2 separate regions of the Homo sapiens genome follow, and region 1 is linked to region 2. A link means that fine-mapping ties the variant in region 2 to the plasma level of a protein whose gene starts in the linked region. Region 2 holds a variant in brackets. A gene starts in the other region. All regions are shown on their forward strands.

Region 1 (8,527 bases), not on the chromosome of region 2:
CTTCCCCCAGCCCTAAGCAACCACTAATCTACTTTCTGTGTCTGTAGATTTCTCTAATTCCCTGGACTTTAAACACTATCTTTATAGAGATACTTTCAAATACATACCCCAGCTCTGACCTCTCACCCTAGCTCCAGGCAGGTATATCACTGCTGGCTGCATTTCCCCACTTGGGGTTCTAGGAGGTATCTTAAACTTAACATGACAAAAGAGAGCTCTTGATTTTTCTCCTCCAAATTAGCTCCTCTTTCAGATTTACCCTACGCTATCAATGGTACCATCATCCACCTGCTGATCAAATAGAAAACCTTGGATCATCCATGATTCCTCCTTTTGGCTCACCCCTCAACTGAGCAAATCCTGTCCTACCTTCAAAACATATGAGCTGAACAGAAAGTCTGAAAAACATAGATTTGAGCCCATTCACATCTCTCTGCCACTAGTGCCTACATTGTACTCCAGGCCACTGTTGTTTCCAGCCAGATGCCCACAATGGCCTCTCTACCCGTGTTCATACCATTCACAATCCATCCTCAACAAGTGGCCACTACATTCTTAAAAACAAGTCATGACAGCTCTCTGAGCTCTCTAGTAGCTTCCTCTTATACCTAAATTCCAACTTATGGTCTTCAGGGCTGCTTGACTCTCCAACCTCCTCATTCATTGCCTCACACTCCATATAGAGTGACTAAATAAGCCTTATACAAGCCAAGCTCCTTCTGACCTCAGGACCTTTGCATATTCAGCTCTTGCGACAAAGTGCTCTTCAAAGCACCCAGATTTCAACAGGGCTGGAAAATGCTCACCATTCAGGGCTCTGCTTGGTGTTGTCTGCTAAGGGAGGTGTTCTCTGACCCCCAGTACTTCAGTAGCTCCCCCACCACCGAGTCGCTTACTAGTTCATGAACACCTCTAGTTATTTGCAATTATTTGAAACAGTTCCTAGTTTCTTATGAACACCTCTTGTTTTCTGCAATTATTTGTCTGGATAATAAGTGTGCCTGTCATCTCCCATAGTGCAGGATTGTGAGTGTTTTTGCTCACTGTCTCCTTAGAGCCTAGAATAGTGCCTGCCCCATAATAGGGGCTCAATGAATTATGTTGAAGCAATGAGTGAATAAAACACAGCACAGACAGTGCCAAGTTTGAACCTTATCTCAGCCACCTGCTAGCTCTGGGACCCCGGACAAGCTCAGAGTCACACTGGGTTTTCAGGTCTCATTATCTTCATCTGTAAAATGGTGACAATAGTGCCACGAATAGTGCCATAAAGGCACTCTGAAAACACTACAGTGCAACATGACCACTGATGGATTATTATCCTTATTATCTCTGATGTTAGTGGAGTGTGGGGCAGGAGGGACTCCCTCCACCCGTCCCAGAGCCACTGCAGCCTGCTCACCTGGAGACACATCCAGCTGGAAGCCCATCAAGGGGTACAGGATCCCAGAGGTGTTGCGCATGCACCAGTATCGGCCTGAGTCCTGGAGCTTGAGGGCCACCATGGTGATGTTGACCACCTTGGCCTGGGCATCGTCCTGCAGCAAGTAGCGGGGCCCTTTCACCCAGACTCGGGCAAAGCCAGGCTCACACTTCTTCTTCCTGATTTTGCACCAAACCTTGCCCTCCACGCGGTTTTTGTAGCCCTTATAGGAGCACTGCACAGACAGAGTCTCCCCTTCAAGGAGCCTCACTTTTGTGTATACACTGTCAGCAGAGGGGCCTGTGGAGACAATACTTATTGAATAAGGTCTGGCAAGAGGAGAGGAAGAAGACATCATGAAAGTTGAAGATCATGGTGAAGGGTAGAGTGGATATTGTCCTGCTGTCACAGAACCCACAGATTGAGGGGGAAATACAGCCCCGCCTTCAGGGAGCTTGCCCCAATCTGAAGGGAGGTGAATGGGCCCTGAAAACAGCTAGCTTCCAGTATTACAGTGGAGACACAACCCCCGCTCTCAGGGAGCTTTCAGTCTGATGGAGGAGGCAGGTATATCCCTCAGTGAGTCCCCAGTCTAATGGAGGAAACGCAGCATTTACACTCGGAGCTCCATCAGACACAGCCCCTTTCCTCATGGTATTTTCTAGTCTGATGGGAAAGTGACAAGCTCTGTCTTCAGGGATTCCCAGGGAATTCATTTTTGTTTTGTTTTGTTTTGTTTTGTTTTGTTTTTGAGACGGAGTCTCGCTCTGTTGCCCAGGCTGGAGTGCAGTGGCACGATCTCAGCTCACTGTAACCTCCGCCTCCTGGGTTCAAACTATTCTCCTGCCTCAGCCTCCTGAGTAGCTGGGACTACAGGTGCCTGCCACCACGTCCGGCTAATTTTTTGTATTTTTAGTAGAGACGGGATTTCACCATGTTAGCCAGGATGGTCTCAATCTCTTGACTTCGTGATCCACCTGCCTCGGCCTCCCAAAGTGCTGGGATTGCAGGCGTGAGCCACTGTGCCCGGCATCCCAGGGAATTCTTGTGGGAAAAACCCAGGTCATGCCCTCAGTGAGACAGATGCAGAGACACAAACACAGGTCATTAAGTTGTGAAATTTCAGTGCCCAACTAACTAGGTAGATAAGAAAATCTAGTATTTGAAAATATGATTAACAGTTATTTATTTCACAAATAGGTTCACTTAGTCCTCTTTAAATAATAACTCTCCTTAGTTCATTCCATCTGGTGTTTAGTTTTAAAATATTCTAGTTACATAAAACCCATAGATCAAGCCTGTCTAAATATACATGTAAACAAACTCCCAATGGAGTGTGAACCACAGGATTCTACAATTATTCACTTTCCACCTGCAATATCTTTCTCTCTATGCTGAGGAGTAAGATGTGGTCCAAGCCTTCATAATCCACAGTCTGGTAGAGACAGAGCAGAACTGGGGTGTGCAGGGTGACTCAGGGGACAGAGAGAGGGAGAAAGCTGCCTTGGGCTCCCTCCACCCCTCTGCCTGCCTTAAGCTCAGCTGACTCTTCTGATAATTTCACCCCAGAGTCTTCCAAAAAAACCACATATAAAAAGACTCTCCCCCATAGTAGAGAACAGAGAGCACACATTTTGGAGTCAAAATAAACAAGGGTTGAAACCCTGTTTCTACCACTTAGTGGTGTGATTAGGTCACCTGTTTGATACAGAAATATCAAAACAGACACTTGACTGATACAGAAATATCTCTGTTTCTTTATCAGTCAAGTGAGAATAGCACCACACCCCTCACAGGTTGCTGTGAGAATTCTGCCCCAGGTCAGTGCTTTGCACACAGTGCATGCTCAACTCATGCTTCCTTTTCCCACATGCTGGGGCCTCCCAGTTCCCCCAATGGAACCCAGAGCTGTGACAGTCAAGGGCCCAGAATCCAGGACATCTGTCCCACCAGAATCCAGGATATCCGTCCCAAGTCCCAGCCAGCAGCCACTAGAGCTGAGGCTCTGTGTGAAGCAGCACCCTCTCTAAGCATCCCTCTGTCCCTTGCAAACTAAACAGAATGATCCAACTTCATTATTTGGTGGATGAGCCCAGGATTTCTTAGCACAAGAGAGACCCCTTTCTGCCCTGGCAGTGGGAAGCTGTTTCTCTACCCTCTGGGAGGTGCAGAGTTGGGTGACCTTGGGATGGGTCTCCAGGGCAATGTCTTCATGTGTGCCTACACCTCCCACCCCTCTCACAGGCAGTGGTGAGTTTTGCCAACCCCCACCATGCCCAGAACTGAACAGGAAGTGGTAACTTGGTTGCCATGGCAGCGAGAGGGGCAGGAATGGGTGAGGTTCCTCAAGGAGCATTGGTATCTGTGAGGTGGGAAAGGCATTCACACACTGGTCCCTTCAGGACAGAGGCAGGGACAGGATGTGGCATCAGCATTTCAAGAAAAATGTTCAAATTCAGTTCAAAACACACATGATGCAATGATTGCTGTCATAACTAAGCAGGGCTTCCTGACAGAGGCCAAGCAGAGAAAGCTATTTGTGTGAGGAAATTGAGGGCTCTGCTTTAAAGCCTGAGGAAGCCTAGCAGATAAAGGAGCCAATGCAGAGAGGGTCCAGAGCTTTATCTTGGCTTGGGAGGCCTGGGTTAGCTTCGCCTGGGGCCTGATATTAGGGTAAAGAGCTAAGTCAGCCCTAATCTCCTCCTTCCCCAACCCACAAAACACTAAACAAGAAAACTGCTGGTAAGGAGGGTAAGAAAAAGGCCCTGAGCTCCTGCCTCTGTACCCACTCCCTCCTCCACAAGTCAGCCCCTTCTCCCCTCACCTGAGACGCAACCCTGTGGCCACAGCAGCAGCAGCAGCAGGAAGGCTGGGGCCATGGTTCCATCCAGCTGGGCAGTGTCAGGCCTGGAGATCCAAGGTGAGGGCCCACCCGACACAGGATGTGCCACCTGGGCCTGCCAGGGAAGGACCCGGGGTTCTAAAAGTGAAGCTGCCCATTTAGGGAAGTGAGGCAGTGTGGGACCCACTGCCCCCAGCCAACCGCAGGGATTCATTGAGCCTATTATGAGGGCGGTGCTGGCAGCTGTTTCCGCCCTTTTCCTCGGAACTTCAGGCAGGTGTGGCTGCTCCACCCAGTCTGGGGCCCCAAGCCGGGAGGACTCACAGTCAGAGGGCTCCCCGCCCTCCCCAACCTCCCCCAGAAACTGGTCCCTAGGATCCAGCAAGGGGGCTGGGGTGAGGCTTCTGGAACGTCAGGTATAGACCTTCCTGGAATCTTCTGGGCTCAGAGACCCAGGGGTGCGGGCTCTTAGGCTGAGATGGAGCATCTCAGACCCTAGTTTCTTACATATATACATTCACAGGGAAGTTCTTATAAACTCTCATTCATTCATTCATTGCAGATTCTTTCTGTTCCTTCCTCTCTCTCTCTCCCAGGCTCCTGGCTGCTCAGAACAGTCACTTGTGTTCACTGTTGCAAATAACCTCTTACAGGCTCACTTGAAATCTTACTTTTGTCAAGCGGGAAAAATGCAAATTGTTAAGACTCAGGGCATAAATTTTGGGTTGAGGGAGGGGTTCCTGTACTCTCACACACAGGTGTGCATGCACATGCACTCACACTCACAGTCTCACTTTGTCTTTTATTCACTTTCACACACACACACACACGCCCATGCACACAGTCTCACACACACCCCAGCAGCCTCTCCTTTTCCCTATCCATACGTCTCCTCTCTCTGTCCCTCTCCCTGCCTCTCCTCCTGTCGACTCTACTCACCATCAGCTCCCTCTAGACTCCTAGTCCCTCGTGCAGGCTTCCTACAGCCTCCGCAGTACTTCCCCTCACCCACCTCATCTCAAGACCCCCTTCCTCCCCTGCCTCCAGCCTACGTCAGCACGCAGGCAAGTGCCCTCCACTTCCTCCTGCTCAATGCTATCTCGCCTGTACAGCCACCAGCTCCAGTGGAAATGACCCAGCACTAGGCCCAAGACCACACCCTTCACTTACCCCAAGGCCTAGAATCAGAAGCATCAATTTTTGATGTCCGGTACCTGTGTCATCTGCTCCTTCAGTGTGTGGGGACCCAGCTGGACTCCCGTGATTATGTATGCTCCCCCTACTCACTAGTGCCATGTTTCTACTCCTTAGATGGGACTGTCAAAAGGTAAACTGAGGCACAATAAAATTTTAAACAGATTATTTCAGCAAACAACAATTCATGAATCAGGCAGCTCCAAACAGAAGAGGTTGAGGAGCTCCACTGGGGGAATGCAAGGGGAAGACTCCTACAGGACAAGTAAACTGAAGAAAATATTTAATTAGTTATAGTTATATAGTTCCCTTATTTGGCCTATCCTGTTGGAAAGACCCTAGTTAATTATATAAGTTTCTTTTGATTGGTTGAGCTTAAGTTCTATTTTTCCTTAATATACACATTTACAAGAAATAGCTCGTGTTAAGTTTCACTGATATTTGCAAATCAAGCAAAGTTGAGGTCACTTATGAGGCCTAACTGTTTTTTTAATTTTTGCTCAGGGACTCTTCAGGCCTGGTCTCCATTTTCATTAATTTTAACAGGACTCAGAGCAAAAAGTCCTCAAGCTTGCATGGCCACAATCTTAAATTGACCTTGAAGCCCCAAGCTCCAAGCAAAGAAGTCTATCTCGGCTGACCCTAAGCTTTTGTAGTCTCTCAACTCATTCACTCACTCATTAATTCATTCATTCATTTGTTCATTCCCACAACCTCATTGCTATGCATGGGGCTAGGTAGGCACTGGGGGCGTAGGAATGAGACACGATTGTCACTTGAGACCTCTCAGCTCACAGACGTGTTTTGTTTTCCTTATTCACCCTTCCTTTTTCAATGTTTCTCACCCAGTCCTCAGAACTTCCTGAGCTCCCTGAGTTCAGGGGCCATCTCCCCTCCCCAGCACACACAGTAAGTTCCTCCATCCCTTCCCCCATCAGAACAGTAAGTTGCTTCAGGAGTGGGGGATTTATCTCTTGTGGGGACTTTATGCGCTTGGAATCCATGATTCTATGAAACTGATACAGTGCGCCCAGCACTGAGCCAATCATCGTCTAAAGTGTGACCCTTGGGATCACTGTGCTGATGAGGGTAGAAAGAATCAAACATTCATTCGCTGATCGAGGAAGTATGCACTGGATTCAATCTTTCTTAAGAGAAATTTGGAAGCATTGGTCAAAATCATTAAAAATACGTATACATTAGACTTTTACATCTATCATTTGATTTAATACAGCAGTGTATTTTGTCTTTATATTTATTTTTCCCATTTAAAAATTAAGGCCTAATTTACATACAGTACTATTCACCCTTTTCAGTGACGAGTTCTGGGAGTTCTAGAGACTTGTATCCAATGCCGTAATGGAGACAGAGAAGAGTGCCATCATCCCGAAAAGCTTTCCTCTGCTCCTTGTTAGTCATCCCTTCAGTCCCAGACAAACACTGATCTGGTGGGGTTTTTTCCTGTCATTTCTCTCTTTCCAGAATGGAAAAGTGAAGCACTTTATGTTGATTTATTCTGGTGAAGTCCAATATATAATTTTTATGAATCAATTTTTATGTCATATCTAATAAATCTTTGCTTAACCCAAGGTCACAATGACTTTTTTCAACAATTCTGTGAGCTATAATTCACATAATATAAAACTGACCCATCTAAAGCATACAATTCAGTGGTTTTCAATATATTCACTGAGTTGTACAACTAACACCAATTTTGCAGGATTTCCCCACCCAAAGAAACCCCATGCCCGTTAGCAGGCACTCCCTGGATCCGTTTACTGCAGACTTGGTGGCTTAAAACAGTATTAAGTTATTGTCTCGCCATTCTGAAGGCAGAAGTCTGAAGTCAGTTCACACTGTATTGAGATGAAGATGTCGACAGGGCTGCAGTCTCTCCAGAGACACTAGGGAAAAATTTGTTCCTTGCCTTTCCAGCTTCAGGTAGCTGCCAGCATTCTTTGGTTTGGGGCTGTTTTACTCCAATCTTCAAGGCCAGCATCTTCAGTCTCCCTCTGCTCCATCTTCCCATCACTTTCTCCTCTTTGTGTTCAAATCCCACTCTGACTCTCTTACATAAGGATACATGTGATTGCATTTAGTTCCCATCTACGTAATCCAGGATAATCTCACCATCTCAAGATGTTTAACTCACTCATATCAGCAAAGATCATTTTTTTTTTGTTTTTTGCCATATAAGGGTAACAATCACAGGTTCCAGGGATTAGGACACAGATATCTTTTAAGAGACCATTTATCAGCTTACCACAGTCCCCATTCCTACAGTCCCAGGCAACCACTAATATTTTTGTCTTTCTAGACAAAAATATCTTCAATCAAAAATGCCTTTATCAATTCTGGATATGTCATAAAAACATAATTGAACAATATGTGTTCCTTGTGACTGGATTCTTTCATTTGGCATGTTTTCCAGGTTTGTCCATGTTGTAGCTGTACTTGTGCTATACGTTGTATTAATACATCATTCCTTTTAAAGGCTGAATAATATTCCACTGAATGGATATATATGTTTACCATTTATCAGTTGACAAATATTTTATTTGTTTCCACTGTTCAACTATTATAAGCAGTGTTACTATGACTATTCATGTACAAGTTTTTGTGTGGACATACGTTTTCATTTCTCTTGAGTACATAACCAATAGTAGAACTACTGGGTCATATGGCAACTCTATGTTTAACATTTTCAGGAACTACCAATAGTTTTCCAAAGTGGCTGCAAATTTTACACCCTCTCCAGCAATGTATGAGTTCTCATTTCTCTACAATCTCTCCAATACTTGTATTGGCTTTCTGTTTACAGCCATCCAGTGAATGTACTTAAGTTTTGAATTGTAGTTACCTAATGACTAATGATATTGAGCATCTTCATCTTGAGCATGCACAATTTGCTCATTTGTATACCCTTGGAAAAATATTTATTCAATTGTGTTGTTTGTCTTTTACAGCATTTGAACAATGTTGTGCCACATTTTTCTGGCTTCAATTGTTTCAGATAAGAAATTCACTACAATTAGAATTGGTATTCCTTTATAGATAATTATTTCTCT
Region 2 (8,000 bases):
GGGGCTTGGTCCTGGGGTTTCATCTCAGGTTGACCCCCGTTAGGAGGAAGTAAGTAGGAAGGAAGGAGATTTCCTGGGTATTAGGGTGTCCTCAAGCCTGCAGCTCTCCTGGGACTGCACAGAGTTTACTGTCGGACATCAGTTCTGATATGGTGCAGCAGACATGGAGCTGGTAAGTGGTTAAGATCAGTCGGACATGACAACCTCCAGTTCTGCAGAAGCCACTTCATTTGCCTGGGGATAAAGCAGGTCCTTGTGAGCTCATCGACATGCATTTGGCAGAAAGTGCGCTGGCTCTGCCAGCTCCCAGTGTGAGCTTCTAGCAAGCCCCTTGTGCCTTAGATGCCCAGGTCTTTTCAGAATAAGCCTGGCTTGTTTTAACTTGATGCAACTTGCTGCTCACAGTCATCTTATTGTTTGCTGATGAATTCAGACCTCCATTCATTTAAATATTTGTCAGTTATCTACCATGTGTCAGGCATTAAATTTAGTGCTGGAGATACTATGGGACATAAGAAGTCCCTGCTTGCTGGGAGTGCGTGGTCTAATTGGTACTTGGGACAGTGTGGTTTAACTGCCACAAAGTTAATAAAGCAGCATGATGTGACAGAGCTGGATGTGGGGGAGTGAGGAAGCTTCTCTGGACTGGGTGGTCTGAACCCCATGCAGGGAGGAAACTGTGGCTGGGAGGAGAGGAGGCCGGAAGAGAGGTCTGGGCTTGGGTCCCAACCACTGATTCCAGATCTCTCAACATTTGTAACACGACCAACTCCTGTTCTTTTTTTTTTTTTTTTTTGAGACAGGCTAGAGTGCAGGGGGACGATCATAGCTTACTGCAGCCTCGATCTCCTGGACTCAGGGGGTCCTCCTGTCTCAGCCTCCCAAGTATCTAGGACTACAGGTGTGTGCCACCACACCCGGCTAATTTTATTTTTATTTTTATAGAGACGGGGCAGAGTCTGCAGTCACATGCCTTGCAAGTAGCAGAGACAGGGTTTAGTCTCGGTAGCCAGTGCCTAGGGCACAGGTCTTGGCCAGAGGAGAGAAGGCTCAGGTGAACCAGTTTCATCTGACCTGCTTGCTAACTCAAACATGGCTGCCCAACTGCGTGGGCTGGCAAGGTATGTGAGGTGGGTAGCTGGGTGGCCCGCCCCTTGCAGGCACTGGGGCAGGATATCAGGGGGTCCAGAAGAGGTTGGGTTTAGGCAGAGTAGAGGTGATTGTGTGGGCCGGGGGAGCAATGTCACCTTGAATGTGTTTCCATACCCAGGGCCCAGATGGCTCAGGAGGAGGGGGATGGGGACGGGGAGAGTGAGGTCTTTTTGACTTTGATGTGCTTTGACTGCACATCAGAGTCAAACGAGTCAGAATAAGCGGGACCCCTCCACAGGCATCTCAGCCCTCCTAATTTAGCCTTTCTGAAGTGGAGCCTTGGGAGCCGATGAAGCTTAATAAACTCTCCTGGTGCTTCCAGTAGGCACTTGAGGGTGGACACCACCGTCTTCAGGTCATAGGAAGTGTGAGCTAGCAGGAATCCTGGAGATTTTCTAGCCCAACAGTGTCCGGTCAAAATAGAATGGGAGCCAGAAATACAAGCCACATGTAATTTTAAATTACTTTTAAAACATTTAAATTTAGCCACGGTTTTAAAAAGTAAAAATAGGTGAAATTCGTTTTAATATTTTAACCCAATATAGCCAAAATCTTGGCATTTCAACATGGGATGAGCATAAAATAATGAAGGTGATATTTTATTCTTTTTTTGGGGTACTAAATCTTTGAAATCCGGTGTGTATTTTCCACTTAAAGCACATGTCAGTGTGGACTGGCCCCATTGCAAATACTCAGTGGCCTGGGACTGGGGTGACCAAGTGGGATGTGGTGGGGCTGGTGCAGTCCACCATTCTCACAGCAGGCATCTGGGGTCAGGGGAGGCAGGGCACTGGCTGTGCTGGAAGCAGGGGATTGGCTGTGCTGGTGGGAAGCCAGATTCCAGCCCCAGACACTGGTACCTTTGGCTTTAGATCCTTGGGGTGGGTGCATTGCTTCTCCTGGGAGGGAGGAGCGCCCGGGAGCCCCTGACCAGGACCTGGGGCAGGTCCACACAGGCCCTGGATTTCTCCTGTATCCTGGGCCTGGCCCTGCTCTCTTGACTCCCACCTCGTCACAGTGGCTTCAGCTTTTTCACCCTGAGAAGGGAATTCAAAGCCTCTGCCCCTCTCAGGCAGGCACCAGGATATGATTTTCTTTTTTCTTTTCTTTTTGTTTGAGACAGGATCTGACTTGGTCTGGAGTGTAGTAGCCTGATCTCAGCTCACTGCAGCCTCCACCTCCCGGGCTCAAGTGATCCTCCCACCTCAGCCTCTGAAGTAATTGGGATTACAAGCACATGCCACCATGCCCGGCTAATTTTTGTATTTTTTATAGAGATGGGGTTTCACCATGATGCCCAGGCTGTTCTTGAACTCCTGAGCTCAAGCAATCTGCCCTCCTCGGCCTCTCAAAGTGCTGGGATTACTGGCATGAGGCACGGGGCCCTGCCCTGGGTATGATTTTCAAGTGGTTGGTGTCTTGTGACTGGCAGCTGATAAACGGGTGATACAATGTTTCTGTACAGGAGTCTGCAGTGCCAGGCTGCAGGGGCGGATGGTGGGGGGTGGGTGGGTAGCCTGTGGAGCCCGAGGGTGGGAACAGAGAGTCTTCTTTTGCTGTAGGTGGAAGCCTGTCTGGCTCCTTTCCCTCTAAGGTCAGACAGCTTGAGAGATGTTTCCATCCTCCCATGCATGACCCTGAGGCAGTTAGCTGGTCAGTTACTCACTGTGCTCTCTGCCAACTCTAATGAGCCAGGAAGCCTCCCCGTGCCCAGGCGTGCTGTGATCACAGTGTTCAATGATGGGGTGAGGCTACAGCGTCCAGCCAGGGGCTGTGCCACAGGGGCCAGAAGATATCTGACCTACTGTCACTGCCTCTTCCACTCTGTTCCACCTGCACTGGGGCAATGCCATCTGATGAACAGATCCATTTATTAATTCAACACGTTTGTATTGAGAGCCTGCTGGGTGCCGGGCACTATTGTCAACATGGGTGATACAGCAGCAAGCAAAACAAGAGAAACATCTTTGCAAGCAGGGGAGGGGGCCTGCAGTGTTGGGTGTGTGGAGTTGTTGCTGGGAAGTAGAGAAGCTGAGTAAAGAGCTGGACGGAGAGAGATAGCCAGGCCCATGTCTACAGAAAAGCATTCTAGACTGAGTGAGCATAAATCGCAAAGGCCCAGAGGAGGGAGCATGCCTAGCTAGCCCCCTAGACCTGGTGAGGCTGGTGTGGGTTGGGCAGTGATACGGTTTGGCTGTGTCCCCACCCAAATCTCATATTGAATTGTAGCTCCCATAATTCCCATGTGTCATGGGAGAGACCTGGTGGGAGATAATTGAATCATGGTGGTGTTCTCCCCCAAGTTGTTCTCCTGGTAGTAAGTGTCAGGTGAGCCGATGGTTTTATGAGGGGTTTCCCTTTTCACGTGGCTGTCCTTCTTTCTTGCCTGCTGCCATGTAAGATATACTTTTTTTCTTCTGCCATGATTGTCAGGCCTCCCCAGCCACGTGGAACTGTGAGTCCATTAAACTTCTTTTTCTTTATTAATTTCCCAGTCTCGTGCATGTCTTTATCAGCAGCACGAAAACAGACTAACGCAGGCAGCCTGTGTTGGGAGGAGTTGGCAAGGAGGGAGGAGGTGCTGGCCAGTAGAGCACATGTGTCTCTGTGC[A/G]TCAGAGCAAGGACCCGGGCTCTCCCCGTGAGTGAGAAGAGTCCATGGGGTTTTGGGGCTGAGGAGGAGTTTTACAGATGACCGGTCTGTTCTTGGCACTTGCAATTAGCGGACCGTCTGTATCCGAGTGTTGATCGGGTGGATTCTAACCCTGTGGGAGAACTCCCCAGCCCGTAGCCTGCGCTCACTGTACCTGGCAGTTGTATTAATGACGTCAAATGCACAGTCCAGCTTGAGTCCCCTCTAGAACGTGGGCAGCGGACACTAAGCCGAGAGGAATCGCTGTGGGTTGGCAGACACTGTGGAGACTGACTCCTGGACAGGCTGTGGAATGTGTGGAAGCAGGTACAGCCCAGGCCCGCGCTGAGGTTCGGCAGGGAAGCCAGAGGAGTCCGCAGCCCGGGAGACCTGGCCTACAGCGGAGAGAGTCAGTCCATGCCAGTGGTGGGATGTGGCTGCAAAAAATGGTCGGATTCATGGAAGTCTGGTGTCCAGCTGGCAGGCATTAGTGGTCCCATGAATACAGCTGTGTGCCTTGAACACGTACTGCAGAGCTTCCAGAGAGCACCAGGGCTGTGGGGGCTAGAGACTGTGTCTCGTGCGGAAGCGTGGCTGAGAAGGGGCTCGACAGGCTCTTCGTCACTGTGCGGAGCCTTCGAAGGACTTGGATGTGCTTGAGACCCCTTCCCCTAATTGCTGTGTAGGGCAGGGGTGGACATCCCGGGGATCGTGGAGTCTAGGGAGCCAGTCTGCACGGGATGGTTTTAGAAGCCGTAGGATGTGGAGGTTCTGGCTGAAGGAGCCAGAATTCCAGTGCCAGCTCCACTCCTCACGAGCTGTACAACCTGGGCCGGTTACTGACCCCTTTCCCACCTTAGTTCCCTGGCTCTACAATGGAGGTAATTATCGTGTTGAACTCACAGGGTCGAGATCATATTTAACACTTTCACAGCCCTTAGAAGTGTCTAGCACAGTGGTCCTCAGCATTTGGAAATGTCTGGAAACACTTTGTCACACCTGAGAAGAGGGATTTCCTACTGGTGTCTAGTAGGTAGAGGCCAGAGATGGCTGCTAAACACCCCATAATACACAAGACAGACCCCGCAACAGTGAACTCTCTGGCCCCTCCAAGTCAGTGGTGCAGAGATTGAGAGATCCTGGTTTCGCGTTTTGAGCGTGCAGTACATTTCAGTTGTTAGTGGAACATGCAATACATCTTTATTCACATGTTATTACTTATTTGTCAGATGTTTGTAAAACATCTGCTACATTCTTGGCAGTTTAATAGAATCTGGAGATACAAAGAAGTTCCTGACCACAGAGGTCATTTAGGCAAGCTAGGAAAGCACAGAATGATATAACACAAAGTTACATTGTACCATAAAGCATATTCTATAGTACACTTAACTCTGGTGGGCTCTTGGTATAAAAATGTCTCCAATCTCAGAGGTCATGGGATAGTGGGCAAGACATGAAAACCTTGTATAATATAAAATTTTGTTACCTCTAAGTGCTGAAATTAAGGTATAAACAACGTCTCATGGGAACCAAAACATCAGTCATTTGGAAGTATAAGTCAAGCCTTCGTAGGAGAGGAACCATTTCAGCCCGATATTACCAGAGTGGGATGGTCCCAGCGAGCGGGATGTGGAGGGTTAGGATGTTATCTTAGTCTGTTTTGTGCTGCCATTACCACCAAGTAGGTAATTTATAAGGAGCAGAAGTTTATTTGGCTCACAGTTCTGGAGGCTCGGATGTCCAAGATCTAGAGGACACATCCGGTGAGGGTCTTCTTGCTGCATTGTCTCATGGTGGATGGAAGAAGGGCAAGGTGGAGAGAGAGAGCAGGAAGGGGCCTAATTGTCCTTTTATAAGGAACCCACTCCTGTAATAATGGCATTAAACCCATTCATGAGAACAGAGCCCTTGACCCATTCATGAGAACAGAGCCCTCATGGCCTACTCTTATGAGACCCCACCTCACAACATTGTTAACATTTAGGATCAAGTTTCTAGCACATGAACTTTGAGGGACACATTCAAACCATAGCATTCTGCCCCAGTCCCCAAAATGGATGTCCTTGTCACATGTAGAATACATTTGCTTCTTACCTATAATCCCAAATTCTTATTTGTTTCAGCACCACATTAAAAGTCCAAAGTCCACAGTCTCATCTAAGTCAGCTGTGGGTAAAACTCAAGGTATGGTTCATCCTGAATCAAATTCCCCTCCAGTCATGGGCTGTGAAATCAAGCAAGTTGTCTGCTTCCAAAGTACAGTGATGGGACAGGCATAGGACAGATATTCCATTCCAAAAGGGAGAGATAGGCAAGAAGAAAGGGGCAACTGGTCCAGACAACTCCAGAACCCAGCAGGGGGAACAATACCAAATCCCAACTTGACAATAATCTTCTTTGACTCCATGTCCTGCCTTCCAGACACACTCGGGTAGGGACTTGGGCCCCCAAGGCCTCCGGCAGCCCTGCTTCCCTGGCCTTGCTGGGCTCATTCCATGCAGCAGCTCTCACCGGTTGGAGTCTCATGCTTGCAGCTCCCCCAGGTTGCTGTTGCACACTGGTAGCTCTGCAGTTCTGGGGTGTCAGGATGGCCTTACTCCCACAGCTCCACTAGGCTTCCTGGGGACTCTCAGCAGCTCAGACTCCACAGTTCTGCTGGGCATTGCCCTACAGGGGCTCCCTGGTGGTGGCTCTGACCCTGCAACCAGTCTCTGCCTGGGTCCCGAGTCTGTCCGCAATATCCTTTGAAATCTAGTTGGAGGGAGCCAGGCCCATAGCCCCTGCATTCTGTACTCTGGTGGCATTAGGACCATGTGGGATGCCACCAAGACTCACCACTTGCACCTTCTAGAATGGTAGGTCAAGCTGCACCTGGGCCCATTTAAGCCATGGCTGGGGAGGCAGAGGAGCACTGTGCCCAAATGTGGGAGCAGAGACTTGAGGTGGCCCTGGACAGTGAGCCACAGGTCCTGAGGGCTCCCAAGACCTGGCTTTTGACATAGTTCCTTCCCTCAGATTTTGGCACTGCCGGAGCTGTGATCACAGGTCATCTCTGCAGTACCTTTGGGATCATTCTTATTTTCTTGATGAATAGCCTCTGGCTTCATTCTTATTGTACTAATCTCCTTATCAAACTGTGGCTCTGGCCAATACTAATCTCCTTATCAAGTGGTCCATACTAATATTCTTATTAAACTATCAAACGGTAACATGCCTGCACCCTTGCTTTCCTCTCCTGAAAGTTCTTTCATTCTCTACTACAGGGCCGGTCTCAGAATCCTTCCAGTCTCTAAGTTCTGTTTCGCTTTTCATTATAAATTTCTTTCTTTCTTTCCTTCTTTTTTTTTTTTTTTTTTTTTGAGATGGAGTCTCACTCTGTTGCCCAGGCTGGAGTTCAGTGGCACGATCTCAGTTTACTGCAACTTCTGTCTCCTGGGTTCAAACCATTCTCCTGCCTTAGCCTCCCTAATAGCTGGGATTTCAGGTGTGTGCCACCACACCCAGCTAATTTTTTTGTATTTTTAGTAGAGATGGGGTTTCATCATGTCAGCCAGGCTGGTCTCGAACTCCTGACCTCAAATGATCCGCCCGCCTCAGCCTCCCAAAGTGCTAGGATTACAGACGTGAGCTACTGCGCCCAACCCTGCTTTTATTTATAAGTTTCATCTTTAAATTATTTATTTCTTCTCAAGTTTTACAGTATACAGTTAAAATAAGTCATACAGCAACCAAAATGCTTTGCTGCTTAGGTATTTCTTCCACCAAATAGCCTAGTTTATCACTCTTAAGTTCTGCCTGCTATACAGTTTGAGGACCTGGACACAATGTAGCCACATTCTTTGCTGCTTTGTAACAAGGATGACTGTTATGCCAGTTTCCAGTACCTTAATCTTCAGATATATCTGAGACCTCATCAGAATGGCCTTCACGATCGATATTTCTACCACCATTCTGATCACAACCACTTAGTCTAAGAAGTTTCAGACTTTCCCTACAGATCTTCTAATCCCGCTTTATTGCCTGCCTGCCTCCCTCCCTCCCTTCCTTCTTTCCTCTCTGCTCTCTCTCTCTTTTCTTCCTTTCCCTCCCCTCCCCTGCTTTCCTCTCCCCTCTCCACTTCTTGGCACCAATTTTCTGTCTTAGTCCATTTTGTGCTGCTGTAACAGAATACCACAGATTGAGTATATTATAATGAATAGAATTTTATTTGGCTCATGGT

Direction of the effects. Positions count from the first base shown, and alleles are read on the strand shown. Strength reflects both the effect of a copy and how common the allele is.
In carriers of allele A in region 2, the plasma level of the protein whose gene starts at base 4,443 in region 1 tends to be higher than with G alone (weak association).

What was found. PIP is the posterior inclusion probability: the model's chance that the variant is causal. Protein levels are from antibody-based Olink assays in UK Biobank. Linkage for the fine-mapping came from a reference panel and not from the study's own genotypes, which makes the PIPs less certain.
Region 1: TREML2 starts here. The variant in region 2 is fine-mapped to the plasma level of the TREML2 protein (UK Biobank, PIP above 0.99).

The regions. Positions count from the first base shown.
Region 1 is chr6:41,196,707-41,205,233 of GRCh38, forward strand. It overlaps TREML2 (triggering receptor expressed on myeloid cells like 2), which reads right to left and starts at 4,443. Exons shown (of 5, transcript NM_024807.4): 1 at 4,248-4,443; 2 at 1,403-1,723. The coding sequence starts at 4,302. RefSeq lists an enhancer at 4,662-4,731.
Region 2 is chr11:126,392,183-126,400,182 of GRCh38, forward strand. All of the region lies in intron 1 of ST3GAL4 (ST3 beta-galactoside alpha-2,3-sialyltransferase 4), which reads left to right. Among named protein-coding and RNA genes, the nearest start is that of ST3GAL4, 40 kb to the left of the region's middle. RefSeq lists an enhancer at 1,546-2,473. The variant A/G (reference allele first, on the strand shown) is at 3,764.